Homo sapiens: one gene and its partners. The protein of the gene in region 6 purifies or fractionates together with the protein of the main gene of each other region. This does not show direct contact. Each region holds a gene or a part of one and is shown on either strand. Other genes may lie near its edges. The genes, in order: STEAP2, ERGIC2, ORC4, SCCPDH, GALNT16 and PARM1.

Region 1 (3,500 bases), on a different chromosome or scaffold from region 6:
TCCTTTGCTGCACGGAAGTCTTTTAGTTTAATATAGTCCCATTTGTCTATTTTTTTGTTGTTGTTGCTGTGCTTTTGAGGTCCTAGCCATAAAATCTTTGCCTAGACCAATGTCTTCAAATATTTCCCCAATGTTTTCTTCTTGAAATGAGGGGTTTTGGGTCTTATGTTTAAGTCTTTAGTTGACCTTGCGTTGATTTTTGTATATGGTGAGGGACAGGGGTCCAGTTTTATTCTTCTGCATACAGATATCCAATTGTCTAAGTACCATATATTTGAAGAGGATATCCTTTCCTCAGTGTATGTTCTTGGTGCCTTTGTTGACAATCAGTTGGCTGTAAATGTGTGGATTTTTTTTGTGGATTATCTAATCTGTTGCATTCATTGATCTGTGCATTTGTTTTTATACCGGTACCATGTTTTTTCGGTTACTATTGCCTTGTAATATATTTTGAAGTCAGGTAGTGTGATGCCTTCAGCTTTGTTCTTTTTGCTTAGGATTGCTGTAGCTATTCAGGATATTTTTTGGTTCTATATGAATTTTAGGATTGTCTTTTCTAATTCTATGAAAAATCACATTGGTATTTTGATAGGGATTGCATTGAATCTGTGTATTGCTTTGGGCAGTATGGTCATTTTAATATTAATTCTTCCAATCCATAAGCATGGAATGTTTTTCCATTCGTTTATGTCATCTTTAATTTTTTTCTACAGTGCTTTGTAGTTTTCCTTGTAGCAAACTTTCACCTCCTTGGTTAAATATATTCCTAGTTGTTTTTTGTTTGTTTTTGTTTTTTTTATAGCTATTGTAAATGGGATTGCCTTCTTGGTGTCTTTTTCAGCAAGTTCATTGTTGGTGTATAGAAATGGTACTGATTTTTGTATGTCGATTTTGTATCCTGCAACTTTATTGAATTTATTTATCAGATCTAAGAGTTTTTGTGTGAAATCTTTAGGTTTATCTAGATCTAAGATCATATCATCAGCAAAGAGGGATAATTTGACCTTCCTCTTTTCCAGTTTGGGTACCTTTTATTCTTTCTCTTTCCTGGTTGCTCTGGCTAGGACTTCCAATATGATGTTGAATAGAAGTGGTGAAAGTGGCATCCTTGTCTTGTTTCTGTTCATAGAGGAAAGGCTTTGAGCTTTTCCCCATTTCAAAATAATGATAGCTATATTATTATTATATAGATCATATAAGCCCTTATTATGTGAAGCATATTTTTTCTATCCCTAGTTTGTTGCAAGTTTTATCATGAGGGGATGCTAAATTTTCTCAAATGTTTTTTCTGCATCTATTGAGATGATCATATGGTTATTGTCCTTCATTCTCTTCAGGTGATGTATCACAGTTGTTGATTTGCATATGTTGAACCATCCTTGTATCCCTGGGATGCATTCCTGGAATAAATCCCCTTTGATCATGATGTGTGTGTGTTTTTTTTATGAGTTGTTAGATTTGGTTTGCTTCTACAGACACACACGCGCGCACACACACAATTTTTAGGAGACAGGGTCTTGCTCTGTTGCCCAGGAGGGAGTGCGGTTATGCAATCATAAATCACTGCAGCCTTCAACTTCTGGGCTCAGGTGATTCTTCTGCCTCAGCTCCCGAGTACTAGGACTTCAGGTGTGTACCACCACACCTAGCTATTGTTTAAATTTTTTGTAGAGACGAGGGTCTCATTATGTTGCCCAGGCTGGGCTTAAACTCCTGGCTTCAATCCATCCTCCTGCATTGGCCTCCCAAAGTGCTGGGATTACAGGCATAAGCCATCATGTCTGGCCCTTGGTTTGCTAGTATTTTGTTGAGAGTTTTTGTATCTGTGCTCATCAGGAATAATAGTATGTAGTTTTCTTTTTTGTTGAGCCTTGTTTGCTTTTGGTGTGAAGATAATGCTGACCTCATAGAATGAGTTAGGCAGAATTCCCTCCTGTTTAATGTTTTGGAAGAGTTTGAAGAGAATTGGTGTTAGGTCTGTTTTGAAAGTTTGGTAGAATTCGGCAGTGAAGCCATCTGGCCCTGGACTTTTCTTTGTTGGGAGTTTTTTAATTACTGCCTCAACTTTTTTTGTTACTGGTCTGTCCAGGTTTTCCATTTCTTCCCATTTCAATCTTGGTAGCTTGTATATGTGTAGCAGTTTATCCATTTCCTCTAGGTTTTCCAGTTTGTTGGTGTATAGTTGTTCATAATAGCTTCTCATGATCTTATGTATTTCTGTGGTATCAATTGTAATGTTTCCTTTTCCATTTCTGATTTTTTATTGGAGTATTTCCTCTTTTTTCTTGGTTAGTCTAGCAAGTGCTTTATCAATTTTATCTTTTCAAAAAACAAAACTTTTTGTTTCATCCATCCTTTGTATTGTTTTTTAAGTCCCAATTTGTCTAGTTCTGCTCTGATCTTTATTATTACTTTCCTTTTACCAATTTGGGGTTTGGCTTGTTTTTGCTTTTCTAGTTCCTTGAGGTACATCATTAAGTTGTTTATTTGAAATCGTAATGATTTTTTGGTGTAGGTGCTTGTTGATATAAGCTTCCATCTTAGCACTGCTTTTGCTGTATCTCATGGGTTTCAGTGTGTTGTGTTTTTATTTTTATTTGTTGAGGGAAATTTTTTGATTTCTTCCTTAATTTATTCTTTGCCCCCGTAGTCATTTAGGAGCATGTTGTTTAATCATTTATTTTTACAGTTTCAAAAGTTCCTCATGTTGTTGACTTCTAGTTTTATTCCATTGTGGTCTGAGGAAGTACTTGATATGACTTCGATTTTTAAAAAATTTGTTGAATCTTATTTTGTGTTCTAACATGGTCATTCCTAGAGAATGTCTATGTGCTGATGAGAATTTGTATTCTGTAACTGTTGTATAAAATGTTCTGTGAATGTTTGTTAGGTCCATTTGGTCTAACGTATAGTTTAAATTCAATGTTTCTTTGTTAATTTTCTGTCTAGATTATCTGTCAGATGCTGGCAGGCGGTGTTGAAGTCCCCAAATGTTGTTGTATTGGCGTCTGTTTCTCCTTTTAGATCTGATAACACTTTATTTATATTAATATATCTGAGTGGTCTGTTGTTGGGTGTATATATGTTTAGAATTGTTATATCCTCTTGCTAGAATTTATCTATTATCATTATATAATGACCTTCATTGTCTCTTTATACTGTTTTTGACTCAAACTGTTTTATTTGATATAAGTATAGTGACTTTTGGTTTCCATTTGCATGGACTATCTTTCTCCATCCCTTTGCTTTCAGTCTTATATGTGTTTTTATATGTTAGATGGGTTTCTTGTACCCAGCATATACTTGGGTTATGATTTTTTATCTATTACTAGTCCATATCTTTTCAGTGGAAAGTTTAATCCATTTGCATTCAAAGTTATTCAACAATGAAAACTTCCCAAGTCTAGTGAGAGATGTAGACACCCGGATACAGGTAACTTAGAGATCTCCAAACAGATACAATACAAGAAGGTCTTCCCCACAGCACATTATAGTCATAT
Region 2 (3,500 bases), on a different chromosome or scaffold from region 6:
TGTACTAAGAAAAATTATATAACTTAGGGAAGATCCAGTTTCTGATTTTAATTAATTATACATATAAATGGTACTACTTTAATAATTGTTTTTTCTCCTTTCAGGGCAATTCCACATCCTCGTGGTCATGCACATTTGGCAGCACTTGTCAACCATGAATGTAAGCAGATTCTGACTTTTTTTCAGTAAAGATGTACTTGAAAAAATATTATTTTTAAAAGTGCAGATATAGTGTAGTTGAAAGTGAGCTGTTTTGAAAACATATTCATCCAAAGGAAAAAATAAATTTTTAAATTGATTTACTTTAATCTGCATTTGTATTTGGTCATGGCTCTGAGTTGCTGAGGTTAGGGAGGAAAGCCTAGTGTACTTTCTATAACTTTGTACACATTTCTGCTAATTTTTAGGGATAAAGAAAATAATATATTTGCAGTTTATTTCAATTTGCAAATTGAAATATGGATGTATAGACATGTATAAAGTATTCAGGTTAGTTTGGTATCATGATTGTCTTAAGACTTAAGTTCTTAAAGTCTGCTTTAGAGGACAAAACAAGTAATGGATTCCACAGAAAATTAGTTTGGTCACATTTAGCAATAGTGTATTAAAAATATATCTGATCAGTTTTATTATATGGCCACATGGCCATCATTCCAATTCTAACAATACCGTCCTGTTAACTATATGATGATTTGGAAAAGGAAAGATGTATATTTTTGGCTTTCATTATATATTAATATTTTCTAGACGTTAAATTGTATATAATTATTAAATTTGAGATATAGCATTTTGTCAGAATTTATTTTATACATTTAATTCGCATATATTTACATTTATTTTTCTCAAAGTATTGTGGCTTAAAATACTGTATTATTATCCTTGAAGATTTTAAACATTTTCATTTGAGAATAGATAAGGATGTAAACCAGTCTGTACCAAGTAATTTTGAATAATATAATTTCTCTGCTAAGTTGTTTTTATTTTTTGCCTTTTAGCTTACAATTTTTCTCATAGAATAGATCATTTGTCTTTTGGAGAGCTTGTTCCAGCAATTATTAATCCTTTAGATGGAACTGAAAAAATTGCTATAGATCGTAAGTATTTAATAATTATTGTTGGATTTTACATGTAGAAAATTTTGCTTATAACCTGAATATTAATACATTTTTAATGTCTTCCTAACTACTGTGTAAAGATAATCTTTAAGTGGTTGGTGATTGAGATGTATGTGAAGAGAATTTGTCCTAGTAGTGGATGAAATTTGAATATTCAAAAATGAGCCATAGAACAGAATAAAGAAATTCAAGTTAAAAGATGAAGGAATTAAAAGGCAGAAGGAGTTCAATTTAAACAGTAGAAATAGATGAAAGGTTAATACATTAACAGGGCATAACTGCACTTTTTTGTATTCACCAAAGAATAAGAATGAAAAAAAGGTTCAACATTATGAGAAGAATTTTCTTCTTTGTATAATATAGGTTCAAAGTTTTAAAATGCATATATATCATTTCAGAAACCTCTCTGGAGAATTTTACAAACACCAGAAACCTAGTTATTCTGGAATGGTTTGGTTATTAACATAGAAGGAGTACATTATAGCACAGATAACCTTTTTAAAATGTTCTATTTAACCTTCTGCTCCATTTAAAGTATCAAGTCTATCCAAATATGGAAAGATCATTTTCTTAGTTTTTTAGAAAGTAGTCTGTTCTCATGTTTTCTGCAGGTTTTTGATTGCCTCTTTCTAAAATAGTCATATTATATACCATGTTCCAGCTATTGGACATTTTAAGGACTTCTGAAGCTTGTTCAGCTAGTAGGAATTCTATCCTTTGTAAAATTGTAATTAAGGATTTAGTTTTTTATTAATTTAAGTAGATTTATTAATATCCTATTCAGATTTATTCATATTCTTTACTTTTTAGCAGTGTTATAATCATATATTAAAGATGTTTAGAATTTAGAATACTGATTTACATTCATGAATATTTTATGTTCATGTGGGAATGTTTCACTTCAGGAAACCTGAGTGTACTAAATTTAGAAATGTGTGGATGGAAACATTTTGAGATTTATAAGCTTTAGTCAGTATAATCTAATCTGTAATCTAAGCATATGTTAATTCTCCTCTGAAATGCATTGCATGTTACCTGAGAGATGCTCATTTGGAAACATACTGGTCGATGCTTTGTTTCAAGATGCTAAAATGAACTACAAATTTTTGCACAGAAGCTCTTCTAAATATAAACAGGTCAATTTTCAAAAAGCTGTTTTTAAGTGTACTTCTTTATAAATTCAGAGAAACTAAGAGGTATTTAGAGTCATATTCTGAAATGCCGTTAGGTGAGTATCATCAGGTTTTTCAAAGCTTTAAAGCAGTTTGTATACTTTTCTCCTTCGTAATATATGTTTTTTTCAGCCTCTTTTTCCAAAAAGAAAAAAATCAACATTACATATCTGCTATGTCAGGTAGCTATCCCTTTCCTGATGTTCTCCAGAAGTATTGCAGGAGTTACTTAACAATTAACATCTTTAATGCAGTACAGATTTGGATAAACAAGGTAGACATAGTCCCTGCCCTTCATAGAGCGCACGTTCCTATAGGGAATTAGATCTTTAGGTAATAAGTGTTAGGGCAAACGGCTCTGAACAAAATAAAGGAGATTGCCTATGATATGAGAAAGGGCATGGAAGAGGCTGTGGTATTTGAAAAAAACTTGAGTGAAGTAAATAAGTGAGCTAAGCGATTATCTTTTTGAGAGCATTGCAGGCAGCTTTATTATTAATGAAGCCGGTAGAAATAAAACAACCTATATGTGCTGCCACAAACTGGACAACCTAACTCCATACTCCTCCTACCCTGCTGACTTCTCAAATGGCAGGGATGGCTCACTTTCCTAATGGTAGAAGGTGGTTATGTATGTCTTGAAGACAGAGCTGTTTAAGAGAGAGAATGCCTATACTATCTAATTGAGTGGCTTAGCCACACATGATTACTTTTTGCAGATGAATCATTCCTTCCATGAGTGAGAGAGAAGTGGAGAGGAAGGTCAAAGCTTTTACTCTTTTATGTACAAAGGGGTGCAAGCTTCTATTTAAATCTGGGAGAATTTTTTCTGCTTAAATTTAAGACCATATTCCCCTTGAGTGGAACCGCCTGGGTTCAAGTTCTCACTCTGCCACTTAATAACTTGGACTTTGGCCTGTTTCTTAACATCCCTGTACTTGAGTTGCTTCATCTCTAACAAAAGGATAATAAAAACATTTACTTGCTTCTCTAGTTGAATCTATGGATAGGTGTATCTAATTATACTTTTTCTAGAGAATTCTCTAGACCCGGAGAATTAACATGTTTTATATTATGTGAATGGGTAATTGTTTACAGTTAATTAGTAATTGGTAATATTCTGGTATTTAAAACTTGTGTCAAACTTAGAGATGCCTAATGACTGTATAAAAATGATCCTTTTGATTATACAGTAACCCCAGGCCATCATTGA
Region 3 (3,500 bases), on a different chromosome or scaffold from region 6:
TGAATAATTTTGTTCTTTAATTTGCATAATTCTGGTTACTTAATTTGCATAATTCTGATAGTGGTGATGCTTGTCATTTCATATTTTTATTGACCTTTGAAATTTCCTGGTTTATGTACAGTCATGTGCCACATAACAACCTTTAATTCAATGATAGACCACATATGTGACAGTGGTCCTATTAGATTATAAAACCATATTTTTACTGTACCTTTCCTGTGTTTAGATATGTTTAGATACACAAATACTTCGCATTGTGTTACAGTTGTCTACACTATCACATGCTCATAGGTTCATAGCCTAGGAGCAATAGGCTATGCCATATAGCCTAGGTGTCTAGTAGGCTATACCATCTAGGCTTGGGTAAGTACACTGTTAGGATGCTTGTACAACGATGCAGTCACCTAACAATACATTTCTCAGAACGTATCTCTGTCATTAAGGGACACACGACTGTATTTCCTGTTGGGTCTTTGACCTATTGTGGTAATGTTTATGTTATGCTTATTTATCGGAATTTTTGTGTTTTATTTTTCTCTTCCCTTAAGTTTGGTTTGGACTTTTCTGCTGATCTAAAGTTTTATGTTTTCCACATAGTTAAGTTTATCTAGAAAGTTTTTTCTCTCCTTCAGATTATAAAAACATTCATTGATCCATCTTTTTATTTAATATATATATATATTTGTAATTTATAATTTGTTTGGAATTTATTCTGATTTTACCTGTAAAGTAGGGATCTGACTTTGAATAGACTAATTTTCCCCACTGATGTATAATGCAATATTTTATCAAATACTAAAATTCTATATTAGTACATAAGTCTCTTTCTAGACTTTTGAGTAATCCCTTTGGTTTTGTACCAGTATTAAGTCATTTAGGCTACTGTATTTGTTATTTGTTGAAATAAGTCTTTCTTTTATCAGATATTTGTTTCACTTTTTAACACAAATATAAAGGCGTTAAGCCTAAGGTAAAAGGGATTCTTTTACTAAAGTTGTTTCCATTATTGAAGTGAGAAAAATGTAACCAGAGGGTGATGTGGAACTTTCCCCATGAAAAGCATTGTAGTTGAAATGCTAAAAGTTGTGCTTCAAGGGAGTTTAAGTGGCTTTAGTTGAACTTTATAATCTACAAGTTTGTTTATAAAAAGTATTTCTACAAGAAATGTACCTTGTATTTCTACTAAATAAACAACTCTCTTTTAAAGCATTAGTTTTGTTCATTAATTAGTGACTCCCCTTATATTTTAATCTTAAAGTGTTTTGGTTCTGTGTAGGTATAGAAAACTCTGTCAATTTTATAATCATTAAATAAGAATTATATTTACGTAATTATAAAAATAATAGTCTTTAGTCATTTAAATGATTTTTGACATTTTTCAACAACAAACTCTACTAGAGTCTAGGAACTAGACTGCACTTTTTATTTTTTGGAGATGGAGTTTCACTCTTGTTGCCCAGGCTAGAATACAATGGTGTGATCTCAGCTCACTGCAACCTCTGCCTCCGCAGTTCAAGAGATTCTCCTGCCTCAGCCTCCCAAGTAGCTAATTTTTTTTTTTTTTTTTAATAGCAGAGATGGGGTTTTACCATGTTGGCCAGGCTGGTCTCAAACCCCTGACCTTAGGTGATCCACCTACCTCGGCCTCCCAAAGTGCTGGGATTACAAGCGTGAGTCACCATGCCCGGCCTAGACTGAACTTTTTTTTTTTGAGATGGAGTTTCACTCTCGTTGCCCAGGCTGGAGTGCAGTGGCACGATCTTGGCTCACCACAACCTCTGCCTCCTGGGTTCAAGCAATTCTCCTGCCTCAGCCTCCCGAGTAGCTGGGATTACAGGCATGCGCCACCACACCTGACTAATTTTGTATTTTTAGTAGAGATGGGATTTCTCCATGTTTGTCAGGCTGGTCTCGAACTCCCGACCTCAGGTGATCCACCCACCTCAGCCTCCCAAAGTGCTGGGATTACAGGCATGAGCCACCACGCCCAGCCTAGACTGAACTTCTTGAGAGCAGTCGGGGCTGTGTTTGTCCTTTGAATAATTTTTTTCTGTTGAATGAACGTATATGCATCAGTAAATCCCCTACCCAAAGTAGGCTATCAGAATGTTTACAGAATTGAGTTTTAAAAACTGAAATATAGTAAATGGTTTGGAAATTTAGGAAAGGTGGATATAATTTCTTATTAATGTAATGCTCTTATTTTATCTTAGGTGACCGAACTAGCAGTTGCCCAGTGATCTTCATATTAGATGAATTTGATCTTTTTGCTCATCATAAAAACCAAACACTTCTCTATAATCTTTTTGACATTTCTCAGTCTGCACAGACCCCAATAGCAGTTATTGGTCTTACATGTAGATTGGTAAGTCTTTCTGTTCATTAAAAAAATTGATTATAATATTTTAAAATTCAAGCTTAATTGCTGACACTGCTAGTTTTTTTCACTTATTTAGGTCATTTTAAAAATTTTGTTTCAGCAGTGCCTGGTGTATTTATCCTGCTTTCAACTCAAATTGAGGAAAACAGTTTAGTAGTTACCTTAGCCCATTAATGAATACCTCCCTCCTCCCAGTGAAATTACTGAAGAAAAAAGTATGAAATCAGATTATGCTAATAAATATAATTTCTACATTATCAAGTAATGAGGCGGTTAAATCTCACCAATATTTGAGAAAACTTGGTAATAGTTTTTATTTTAAGATTTTTTTCCATATTTTGAAAAGGCTTGAAATCAACTCTAAGTAATACTATTCCAACTTTCAAAGTACACATCTCCAGAAATGGAAAAGATTCTACCAAGCACTGACAGTAGATAGTGGCTTCTTCATTCCATGGGATATTTTAGAATGATTTTAACTATAGTCTCAATATCACTATCACTTTGCCTTGTGAAGGCTCTGTACATATTGAACCATGTGTACCTTTGGACAGCAGTACAGGCCTTTTTGTGTTTACCTTCTTACACGCATGTAGTATTAACTTACTGAATTCAGATAAAACTGGTATTGAAGAGTGCCTTGGCCCATTTTGTGTTGCTATAACATAATACCTGAGACTTGGTAATTTTTAAAGAAAAGAAGTTTATTTATCTCACAGTTCTGCAGGCTGAAAAATTCAAGCGCATGGCACTGGCTTTGTTGCAAGGGTTTTCATGCTGCATGACATGGTGGAAGGTCAAATGGGGAACCGAAATGTGCAAAAACGAACCAGATAGGAGTTGGAACCTCAATTTATAACAACTCACTGTCTCAAGAACTAATCTATCCCCATGAGAACAAGAACTCACTCCAGTAAGAAGGCATTAAATCTATTTATGAGGGTCCACTCCAGTGACTTCCCACTGTTGCACTGGCAATTAAATTTCAACATGAGATTTGGTGGGGACAAACCATATCCAAACCATAGCAAAGTTGTCTCTTTTCTCATGCTATGACTGCCATGCCTCCATAGCTTTCTTGCAATCCTCTTCCCCCTCCATTCTCGGCAGATGTGTCAGG
Region 4 (3,114 bases), on a different chromosome or scaffold from region 6:
AACGGAACATTAGCATTTATAATCCTGTCAAATAATGAAAATACAGTCAACTTACCTTAAAAAGTCAGGTGGGAATTTCAGAAAAGGGCAAGATGGAAACATACTATCATCTGGCTTGATTAAAATCCCCCGTGGGCCAGGCATGGCAATTCATGCCTGTAATCCCAACCCTTTAGAAGGCTGAGGCAGGAGGACTGCTTGAGCCCAGCCTAGGCAACATAGTGAGACCCCGTCTCAATAAAAAATTATAGCCTGTGACCTAAAAGGGCTGACAGTAATTATACTACAGTTCACAAGTGGACCTGTCTGTCTCTGACAGTAATTATACCACAGTTCACAAGTGGACCTGTCTGTCTCTGACAGTAATTATACCACAGTTCACAAGTGGACCTGTCTGTCTCTGACAGTAATTATACCACAGTTCACAAGTGGACCTGTCTGTCTCTGACAGTAATTATACCACAGTTCACAAGTGGACCTGTCTGTCTCTGACAGTAATTATACCACAGTTCACAAGTGGACCTGTCTGTCTCTGACAGTAATTATACTACAGTTCACAAGTGGACCTGTCTGTCTCTGACAGTAATTATACCACAGTTCACAAGTGGACCTGTCTGTCTCTGACAGTAATTATACCACAGTTCACAAGTGGACCTGTCTGTCTCTGCATAGTTCTGTAAAATGTACAGCAAAAGTTCTTGAACGTTTTGGGCAACATTCTTTTAACAACCTATCAGAAGCCATTCCCTTCCCTTGAAAAGTGCACGTGTGCATACATATTTTACAAACAATGTCAGGGTGTTCAGAGACTCTAAAGAAATCCTAGAGCACAGATTTGACTGACATTATAATTACACTACTTGCATATGAGATTCAAACAGGTGAATATCAACCAATCCCTTTTCCTATTAATACTAATTAAAATTTGCCATTCTGAATTACTGAATCATACTCCAAAAACAGCCAGAGGGAGGGATGCACTAATAAAATTGGATTATATCAATAATTTCAATCTTCCTTTGACAGAATAATTTTAAGTTACTTAATTTGTACAAATGTATTTCTAAAACAATTAAGCTTTAAAAAGAATATATTGTAATGGCATTGTACTTTATAGCTTAAGAGTATAAAATTCCCAAGCATTCTTAAGTGATATGTGAAATACCTGGTCCTTTCACCTGAGTACAAATTTTGATATTTGGTTTGTTCTTATCTGTACCAGTGCCTTGGCTGTATCCTTGACCAAAGAATGTCAGCGTGAATGAGGCAGCATCAATCTGTGAAGGAGAAGGCAAAGGGCGCATTTCATAAATACGTCATTTCCTCCTGGAACATAGTAAAACCGACTATTCTATTTCAAGTGAGACATTGTCAATAGATGAAAACATTATTTTATCTGCCAGAATATCCCGTCATCATTTAAGCAGGGAGCGAAAACTAATTCTTTGAAGCTGTCAGTTTTGAAGACTGGCGTGATGTTGGGGGGAAGGGGAGTGGTAAGAAATAGGGAGGAAATAAAGATGATCTGGAGATAGTTTTTATCGGGGGGCAGAATATAGAAATCTGGTTTTAGATACCTATTTGAGGCGACAAGACAAAAATAGCCAGCAAGTAATGGAAATATGGGCCTGGAGTATAGGTATATAATTGTTCCACTTAAAGATGTAAAAATTCGACTCAAAAAACTAAATTCTTGAGGACTTATCCTAGCATCTTTCACAATCACTAAATTTAGGAATGAGGTGATAAAGAATTCAATCATGATCAACACATTTTTATGAAGTATCAACTAAGGGTCAGATACCATTGAGGCCCTGAGACATAATTACTGCCTTTGCTGGAGCTTACAGTTTAGTAGGAGGAAAGGGGGGGAGAGAGAGATAAACAGATTAAATAACAATGTGACATGAACTAAAACATACAGGCATAACTCAGAGGAGGGTGTTATTAATCTACCAGGGCAGAGGGCAATGGTTCTGAACTGTATATATACACACACACAAACACATTTTAATGGTTGTTTTAAAACCCCAAAAGTAGATGGATTCCAGAAAGGAGAACCCATTATTTAAAGGGAAGAAGGGATGCAGTAGCATAGCCTTTCCAGAACATACAATTCAAGAGGTACAGACAAGGTCAGACACACATGCCACACCTGTCCCATCTCCTGCTATGGCGCCCACACTAATGGGTTCTAATCCTCTCTCAGGCTACACACATTGTCCGACCCAGCATAGTCTCTGGGTGGCTACTATCAATTAATCAAAGTTGGATGAAAAATGAATCCTATGTGCTATCCAGAACTAGATCATGAAGGGTCTAGGATGGCCTCACATCTCTGAAGATGGACTTTCGGCCATTTGTGCTCCAGGGGTGGGTACCAAAACCACTCAAATCTGGAACCTTCTTCCTTCCTCCGCAGTGGTGATTCTCAACCCTGGCAGCACATTAGCATCACTGGGCAGATTTAGAGAGCCCCAGTGCCCAGGCTGCATTCCAGACCAACCGAACCAGAGTCTCTGGTCATCTGTTTTGGGTTCTCTTCCAAAGTTGGGAACCACTGCTCTATGCTTTCAGGCCCCACTCCAGACCTACTGAATCAGAACGTCCAGAAGCAAGATGAGGGCATGTGTCAGTGAAAAAAGCTTCCTAGGTGATTCTTTTTTTTTTTTTTTTTTTTTGGAGAAGGAATCTCGCTGTGTTGCCCAGGCTGGAGTGCAGTGGTGTGATCTCAGCTCACTGCAAGCTCCACCTCCTGAGTTCAAGCAATTCTCCTGCCTCAGCCTCCTGAGTAGCTGGGACTACAGGCGTGCACCACCATGTCCAGCTAATTTCTGTATTTTTAGTAGAGATGAAGTTTCACCTGTTGGCCAGGCTGGTCTTGAACTCCTGACCTTAAGTGATCCACCTCCCTCAGCCTCCCAAAGTGCTGGGATTACAGGTGTGAGCCACTGCGCCCGGCCATGATTCTGATATATGAAATCTCAGTTAAGAATCACTGCCAAAGCAGTGGGCCAGGAACATTTTATAAAGAAGGCAATGACAAGGTCAGATTTTGTGTCTTAGAAAGATCTCTTGGACAGCAGTGGGAAGACAGATTAGAAAGAAACCGTA
Region 5 (3,500 bases), on a different chromosome or scaffold from region 6:
GAGGTGGGTGGATCATTTGAGGTCAGGAGTTCAAGACCAGCCTGCCTATCATGGTGAAACCCTGTCTCTACTAAAATACAAAAATTAGCTGGGTGTGGTGGTGGGCACCTGTAATCTCAGCTACTCGGGAGGCTAAGGCAGGAGAATCTCTTGAACCTGGGAGGCAGAGGTTGCAGTGAGCCAAGATCGCAGTACCGTACTCCAGCCTGGGTGCCAGAGTAAGGCTCCGTCTCAAAAAAGAAAAAAGAAAGCTGAGGTGGCTCACGGGGTGTGTGTGTGTGTGTGTGTGTGTGTGTGTGTGTGTGTGTGTGTGTGTGTGTGTGTGCGCGCGCACGCGCGCACGCATGCACACGTGTAGGGAAGCAAAGGACGTGCTGGCTTTAGTGGGCAGGCCTCCTGCCATGGTGGGGCCAGTTTGCTGGTAGAAGCTGCTCTTCCTTGCAGCCCTGCAGGCTGTAGTGTCCGCTGGACTCCAAATTGTCAGGTTCATTTCTGGTCCAGCCTCAATCTAGGGAGCCCGCTCCAGGGGAGCAAAGGGACATAAACCACATAAGACAGGCCGAGGAGGATCACAGAGAAAACCCCATCAGCTCCAAACTCAAAACTCAGGGCTGGGACAAACCCCTTTAGAGGCTCCTGGCTCCTGGGAGCCAGATAAACCCCCATGCTAAGTAACATCAATCCCAGAGGCATGCATGCCGAAAGGGCTGGAGGGAGCCGGTGGGGAGGTCAAGTTCACCCTTCAGATGGGGTGTGGGTGGGTTTGCCCCCTTCAGGGAGACGTCACTGTCCCGATTCCCTCCTTTCTGGGCACCGGATGGTTGGGGGATCAGGACAGAGGACTGGGGCCCTGGAGGTCAGCACTGGGAGGGTGCACACTTAGGAGGTATTTGCTGCTCCCAGCACACCCCAGCTCAGCCGGCCAAGCTCACTCCCTCCCCCACAATTCATAGGCCCTTGAACAGCATGGTTTCTCAAGGGGTAGAAGGCAAATTTCCCTCCGCCACCACTACCCTACACCCCCTCTCAAGGAGAATTATTGCACAGCCTCTCAAGATTTCCCCCAGGGGGGTCCCAGGCTAGTGGGACTCCTGCCTGTCTGACCTGGTCTGCTCTGCAGGGCAGGAAACAGGCCTGGGAATTCGGGCTGTAAGCTGCTGTCAGTAGAATGAATGCCACAATGAAAAAACGGGCACTGGTGGAATAGTCAGAGAGCAATTGTAATAAAGAAGATTGCTATGAAAACCAGCAACGGAGGCCACCTTCCAGCACCCCAGGAGCTCAAATAAATGCATACGCAGAAACAACAGGGATGAAGTCTGGCAGGAATGAATTGTTTTCACTCCCTTTCTAGAGGAGAGGGAGCCAGTAGGCCAGAAAATGTGGTGTCTATGGATGGCTGGGGAGGGAGGAAGTGACGGGATAGGCCTTTGGTGTCTTAACAGAGGCTTGTTTCCTCCAGGGGACCCAGTACCCTGGGAGGAGTGAGACTGCTCCCCAGCTTGTTGTCTGCAGCAGGGCTGTCAGTGTTGGGCAGTGACAGGGAGGAATTCCCTGGCAGCCAGGGTAGGGGTGATTCCTCTGCAGATTCTACCAAATGTCCTGAGCTGGGAAGAGAGAAGGAAGAAACTCTAGGGTATCAGGACAAACAGAGGTAGTTTTCCCTCTCGCACATACCCCCCACCATACGACAGAGTGTGGTCAGGGCTGTATCCTGGGGCCTGGTGCAGTATCTGTATATACTAGGGAGCCCCCTCTGGGGGCTCTGAGATCTCTGGTAAAGAGCCCCCAGGCCTTGGAAGGTCTCCCAACCTGCTGCTTCCCTCCCAGGACCCCAGGATGGGTGGCATCGGGGTTCTGGGCCAGTGTGGGATGCAGCATGGGGGTGGAGGCGCGGGGCCTCTGGCCTGGCTGTTGGTGTGCCTTCTCTGCCTGGCAGAAGTATTCTCAGGCACAAGACTGGACAAAGAAAAACATTGACCTGCCCTGAGGATGCCCTCATGGCTGGCTCTGACCTCTGTGCTCCCTTCTCAGCTGCCCATCTGTGTCCTACTCCTCGGACCTGCCAGCCACCAGCGTCATCATCACCTTCCACAATGAGGCCCGTTCCACCCTGCTGCGCACAGTGAAGAGGTAAGTCCAGCCATGGGACTCTCATCTCAGTGGTGCTGGCAGGGGAGGACATTGGGATTGGGCGCTGTGGCCAGACAGCTTGAAGCCCAGCAGGTGCTGGAGGCTGAGTCCTGTACTTCTGAGAGGCTGAGACTGGTGAATCAGGGCCAGGAAGACCCCAGAAGTCAAACTGTTAGAGGAATGCGACAGTCAAACACCAGGTCAGATGTCCAGGACAAGGGCAGAAATGCAGGTGTCAGGAGCTGAGGGAGGCCGGGCTAGACAGGAGGCCTCAGGAGGGTGATGGAAGCCCAGCAGTGTCTGTCAGTGTCAGAGAGAGGTGGATTGGAGGTGGATTCTTCCTGCTAAGCCTGGGCTTGTGGTCAAGTTGAACTCCCATCTCCCCATTTCCTCAATGAACTTAGACAAGAATAGGATTCAGGTAGGAGCGCCCAGCATGCTGGCCCTGGAGCTGGGCGGCTGGGGAGTCCCACGGCCCCGGGAGTGGTAAAAATGGGAGGTGGTTCCTAAATCCAGGCTCTTTCTCTGTTTCCACTGCTACTGTAGTGTCCTGAACCGAACTCCTGCCAACTTGATCCAGGAGATCATTTTAGTGGATGACTTCAGCTCAGATCGTGAGTAGTCACCTTCCTTTTTGCAGCCCTCCATTCCGCCCTCGTCCCTGTTTCCCCAGAACACCAAGGCAAGCACCCTGAGGTTGTCCTGACCATCGCAGACACCTTTCTGCCCCCAGCAGGGATCCTGTCTTTTCTAGGACCCCTCCCTGGTCCTGTTCCCTGGTGTCAAAGGAGGGGAAAGAAGGGTGGGTGTTGCTTTGGATGGGACTCTAGTGAGATGATATTGTTTTTAAAAAGTAAAGAAAATCAACAGCATCCTTCATTATTACAACTGCCAAATGCAGATGATAGCTGGGCTGGTAGCCACCCCCAAGCGTGCTTTCTAGTGCTCCCTGAGGTGGAGTGGAGTACTGCCATAGGTACAGGCACTCCTCAGTCTGGCCTGAGAGTGGGGCAGGGCAACCCTTCGGCCAGTAGTGATGACCATACCTCTTCCCAATCCCCATCCCCAACCCTTTCCTGGGCTTAGTATGGGGCAATTTTCATGGCAGCCAAACCACTAGTGGCCTGATGCCCATGTCTAAATGAGCTTGCCTTCCTCTTTGCATCCTCAGCGGAAGACTGTCTACTCCTGACCAGGATCCCCAAGGTCAAGTGCCTGCGCAATGATCGGCGGGAAGGTGAGTCCTTGCACCCTGGGTCCCACCAAGGGCCCATCTTGGTGTCATCCTGTGCACTTCCCCACTCTCTCTTGGTGCCGTGGCACACCAAGCCAACATGGTCCTGCTGCATTCCTGATGGCTGAGACCA
Region 6 (3,500 bases):
CTGTGCTAGCACGTTTCACTCTACCAACATGTTCTGCCTATCCAGAGGGCTGGTGAAGGCCTGTGAACCAAAACCTCTTTGAATTTTGGGCCTCCCTGAAGTCTGGAATTCCTCAGGGTTGCATTTTGCCACTTTTTTTTAATGGCCCAGGACCAGAATAAATGGGCTAAAGAATAACCATAGCTACCATTTGCAGATGATTACTTTGGGCTGAGACTATGCACAAAACTGTACAGCTATCATCTTATTTAATTCTCTTTACAAGGTGGGCAGAATTATTCCCATTTTATAGATGAGGAAGTTAAGGCTCAGAGAGATTAAGGTTTTACATGTGGTAAATGATTGAACTATCATTTGGACCCAGTACTATTTAGTCCTGGTTTTGCATTTTTAATCATTAACTTTTCTTAGCCTGGCCAGCTCCTATTCTTCTTCACTATCTAGCTAAATAGCAACTCTTCTGAGCCGTTTTCCCTGACACCCCTGGGTAAAATTACAGTGTTGCTCTGTGTTCTCAGATCTCAGCATCAATTTCTTTCAAGCATTCTGTATTATGTTTATGTGCTTCCCTAGGTCATTTCTATTCATGGCCATCTTGCATCTCTTCCCATTTCTTTGTGCACTGTTAGCTTAAGGCACCATCTTTGGCCCACAGTGGGTACTTAACTCATGTATTTAATGTTGAATAAACAAATATACTTTTAGCTTAAAAAAGATTACCAGAATTTTTTTTTTTTTTAGCCTAATCATTGTCCTAAAAAAGTTTCCACACAGCTGACTCACCACCTATTCACCTTGGAATCACCTGCTCCAGTTCTTACCTGAGTACCTACTCCTATGATTACATCTATGATCCCACCTCCCCAGCCCCCTGCCCTTCTCACTGTGCACTTGAAAGTCCCCATCAGTGACCAAGGTGGTTAGTTGGAGGAGAGTTCTTTTAGGAATGAATTAGTCCATTCTCATGCTGCTAACAAAGGCATACTCAAGATGGTAATTTATATATAAAAAAAGGTTTAATGGACTCACAGTTCCACATGGCTGGGGAGGCCTCACAATCATGGTGGAAGGTGAAAGGCATGTCTTACATGGTGGCAGGCAAGAGAGCATGGGCAGGGTAACTTCTTTTTATAAAACCATCAGATCTTCACTATCACGAGAACAGCATGGGTAAAACTCACCCCCATGATTCCATTACCTCCCACTGGGTCCCTCCCATGACACATGGGGATTATTACAATTCAAGGTAAGATTTGGGTGGGGACACACAGCCAAACCATACCAAGGAATAATTGTCTAAATAGAGTCAGATAACATCCTGGAAGCAGCCAGAGTAAACTCCTGGTCAGCCTTGTCGGCCACTACTCCACTGCTCTACAACCCTGAGGAAGGAGGCTGCCTTTGGGGGTATTCCTTTCCCTGCTTTAGCTCTGTTCTATACCCTGAGGCAGTCCAGGAATCAACTGTGGCATCATTTAAGAGTCTCTCTCCCCACACTCACACATCCCCATGGGCCCGCACGCCACACAGATGGGCCCCTTTTCTTGATCACACACTCAGAAGGGGTTCTGTTCATGTCCAAGCCTCCTGCCTCTCACTTGACCAAAAGGGTCCTTCTATATTCCTGGGCTTAGCAATATTCTCAAACCTCAAATGTTCCTCTAGGGACTCTTCTCATTGAGGGATTTTCTTTTTATTTCACTTTAAACATGAAATAAACATTTTATTTGAGCTCTTTGGAAAAAATATTAATATTCACCAATTGTATCCAAAATGTAAATATTAGGACATGATGGGATGAACCCAAACAACCTCTGAAGAAATAACTTTGCTGGGCTCTTTAAAGAAGTTGTTGTTACTCTGAGAGAGCTGGGGGTGGAGGAGGTGATGGTGGAAAGTTTCCAGAGGTGAAAAAGAGGTGAGTGTCTCACTGCTATCCATAGATGACTCCTGAGCTACATTCTCCTTGAAAATTCACCAGTCAGCTTATTTAGAAGGTGCGTGTAAATACTTGACCAAGTTCCTGAGTATGTGTGCATGCCTCTGATCTATTTTGAGAAGAGTCTTTAACAAACCTCTTGACTGTTTTTCAATATTCTTGCGCTTTTCTTTCCACTTCCTGGTCCAGAGATTAGGTAAGAATTGGAGAAGAGGAGCAGGTGGCCACTTCAGGGTGTGCCGCAGCTCCTTCAGTCAAGGTCACCAAGAGGAAAGGAACATTTTGTCTCAGAGGAATTCTTTCTCTTTAAAAGCATGTATCTGTGGATGTGCTGGAGGAGGGAAGTGGGCGACTGGCGAGGGCTTGACAGTTAGAACTCTGTGTGTGCCGAATCTCTATTTATTATGCTAGGCTCTTCATTCTCACAGCAAGAGCATCAGATCATGTCTCCTTCCTCCAAAGAACAACAGTAATAGCAGGAGAAATCAACGACAACAAAAATAATAGCAACTAACACTTTCCTGTTACTTACTGTGTGCCAGGGACTGTTCTATGAGCTTCACTTATTTCAGTTCATTTAATCCTCATGAGAAAGTAGGTATTCTTGTTATCTCCATTTTACAGTTGGGGAAACTGAGTCACAGAGATGCTAAGGACCCAAAGCCACAGAACTGCTAAGTAGAAGAACTGGGATACAAGCACAGGTTCGAGAGTCCATGTGTTGCCCACTAGGCTCTCCTGCCACCCTGGGCTCTAGTACTAAATCCTCAACTGCTTTTAAATAAAACCTACAGCTCTGGTACATCCTCTGTCTGCTTTCTGTTAGCTGCCCAGGAATCAGGGCCTGCCTTAGGCTGTGTGATGGCTTGGGTCCTCTTGTACATACTGGTGAAGGAAGAATGAAGCTCAATAATTCAAATTAATTGGGAAGAGGGCTAGTTAGAAGCAGACAACAGTTCTAGAACAGCAACCTTAGATCGTTCAGGTCATTGGTTTCTAGTGTGTGCTGTGGTGCAAAATAACTGCTCAGAATCCTGCCAAATGCTGTTCATTTCAGTGTGTTAAATAACCCAGGGTACATGGTAACTGCAATTTGCTTCTAGTGGGGTGGTAGTGGGAGTGGGGTGTAGTTTGTGAGATGGAGAGAAAGTGAGAAAAGAAAACCTTAGTTCTTAGACACTGCAACCTAGGTAGATCTTAATTTTACCATTATTGGAAGTCTCTTTGTCTTCTGGCCTTGTCTGCTTGGATTTCATGCCCATTCTTCTTTCCATTCCACCCCATGCCAGGGGAAGCACATCTCGTCTCCTCCCTCTTACCCCAAATCCACCCTACAAGCCTCTCCCGAATGAGCTCCATGGGCTCACCTTAAGCCAGGACAGTGTGGTGTGTAGAGACCCAATAGGCAGGGGCCCTGAGGTTTCACCACTCCATGGCGGAGACAAGTGTCAGGCCCCGGGAACCATTCTGGGGTGGGCAGGATTGGATGGGATAGGCAGGCAGGGAGGTAAGAGAGGTGAGTAGTGCCAGCCTCTGTATTTCTGCCTGTGGGTGGAATGGT

What was found.
Region 1: the proteins of PARM1 (region 6) and STEAP2 purify together in Homo sapiens (affinity purification with mass spectrometry; one large-scale study listed by BioGRID and IntAct). This does not show direct contact.
Region 2: the proteins of PARM1 (region 6) and ERGIC2 purify together in Homo sapiens (affinity purification with mass spectrometry; one large-scale study listed by BioGRID and IntAct). This does not show direct contact.
Region 3: the proteins of PARM1 (region 6) and ORC4 purify together in Homo sapiens (affinity purification with mass spectrometry; one large-scale study listed by BioGRID and IntAct). This does not show direct contact.
Region 4: the proteins of PARM1 (region 6) and SCCPDH purify together in Homo sapiens (affinity purification with mass spectrometry; one large-scale study listed by BioGRID and IntAct). This does not show direct contact.
Region 5: the proteins of PARM1 (region 6) and GALNT16 purify together in Homo sapiens (affinity purification with mass spectrometry; one large-scale study listed by BioGRID and IntAct). This does not show direct contact.

Annotation. Positions count from the first base shown.
Region 1 is NC_000007.14:90,218,240-90,221,739, forward strand, and holds part of STEAP2 (metalloreductase STEAP2), read left to right. Parts: intron 1-3,500. UniProt on the Homo sapiens protein: Integral membrane protein that functions as a NADPH-dependent ferric-chelate reductase, using NADPH from one side of the membrane to reduce a Fe(3+) chelate that is bound on the other side of the membrane.
Region 2 is NC_000012.12:29,346,673-29,350,172, reverse strand, and holds part of ERGIC2 (endoplasmic reticulum-Golgi intermediate compartment protein 2), read left to right. Parts: intron 1-104; coding exon 105-160; intron 161-995; coding exon 996-1,094; intron 1,095-3,500. UniProt on the Homo sapiens protein: Possible role in transport between endoplasmic reticulum and Golgi.
Region 3 is NC_000002.12:147,951,238-147,954,737, reverse strand, and holds part of ORC4 (origin recognition complex subunit 4), read left to right. Parts: intron 1-2,213; coding exon 2,214-2,365; intron 2,366-3,500. UniProt on the Homo sapiens protein: Component of the origin recognition complex (ORC) that binds origins of replication. DNA-binding is ATP-dependent. The specific DNA sequences that define origins of replication have not been identified yet.
Region 4 is NC_000001.11:246,762,409-246,765,522, reverse strand, and holds part of SCCPDH (saccharopine dehydrogenase-like oxidoreductase), read right to left. Parts: intron 1,278-3,114; coding exon 1,166-1,277; intron 1-1,165.
Region 5 is NC_000014.9:69,322,658-69,326,157, forward strand, and holds part of GALNT16 (polypeptide N-acetylgalactosaminyltransferase 16), read left to right. Parts: intron 1-2,034; coding exon 2,035-2,133; intron 2,134-2,679; coding exon 2,680-2,747; intron 2,748-3,304; coding exon 3,305-3,370; intron 3,371-3,500. UniProt on the Homo sapiens protein: Catalyzes the initial reaction in O-linked oligosaccharide biosynthesis, the transfer of an N-acetyl-D-galactosamine residue to a serine or threonine residue on the protein receptor.
Region 6 is NC_000004.12:75,027,116-75,030,615, reverse strand, and holds part of PARM1 (prostate androgen-regulated mucin-like protein 1 precursor), read right to left. Parts: intron 1-3,500.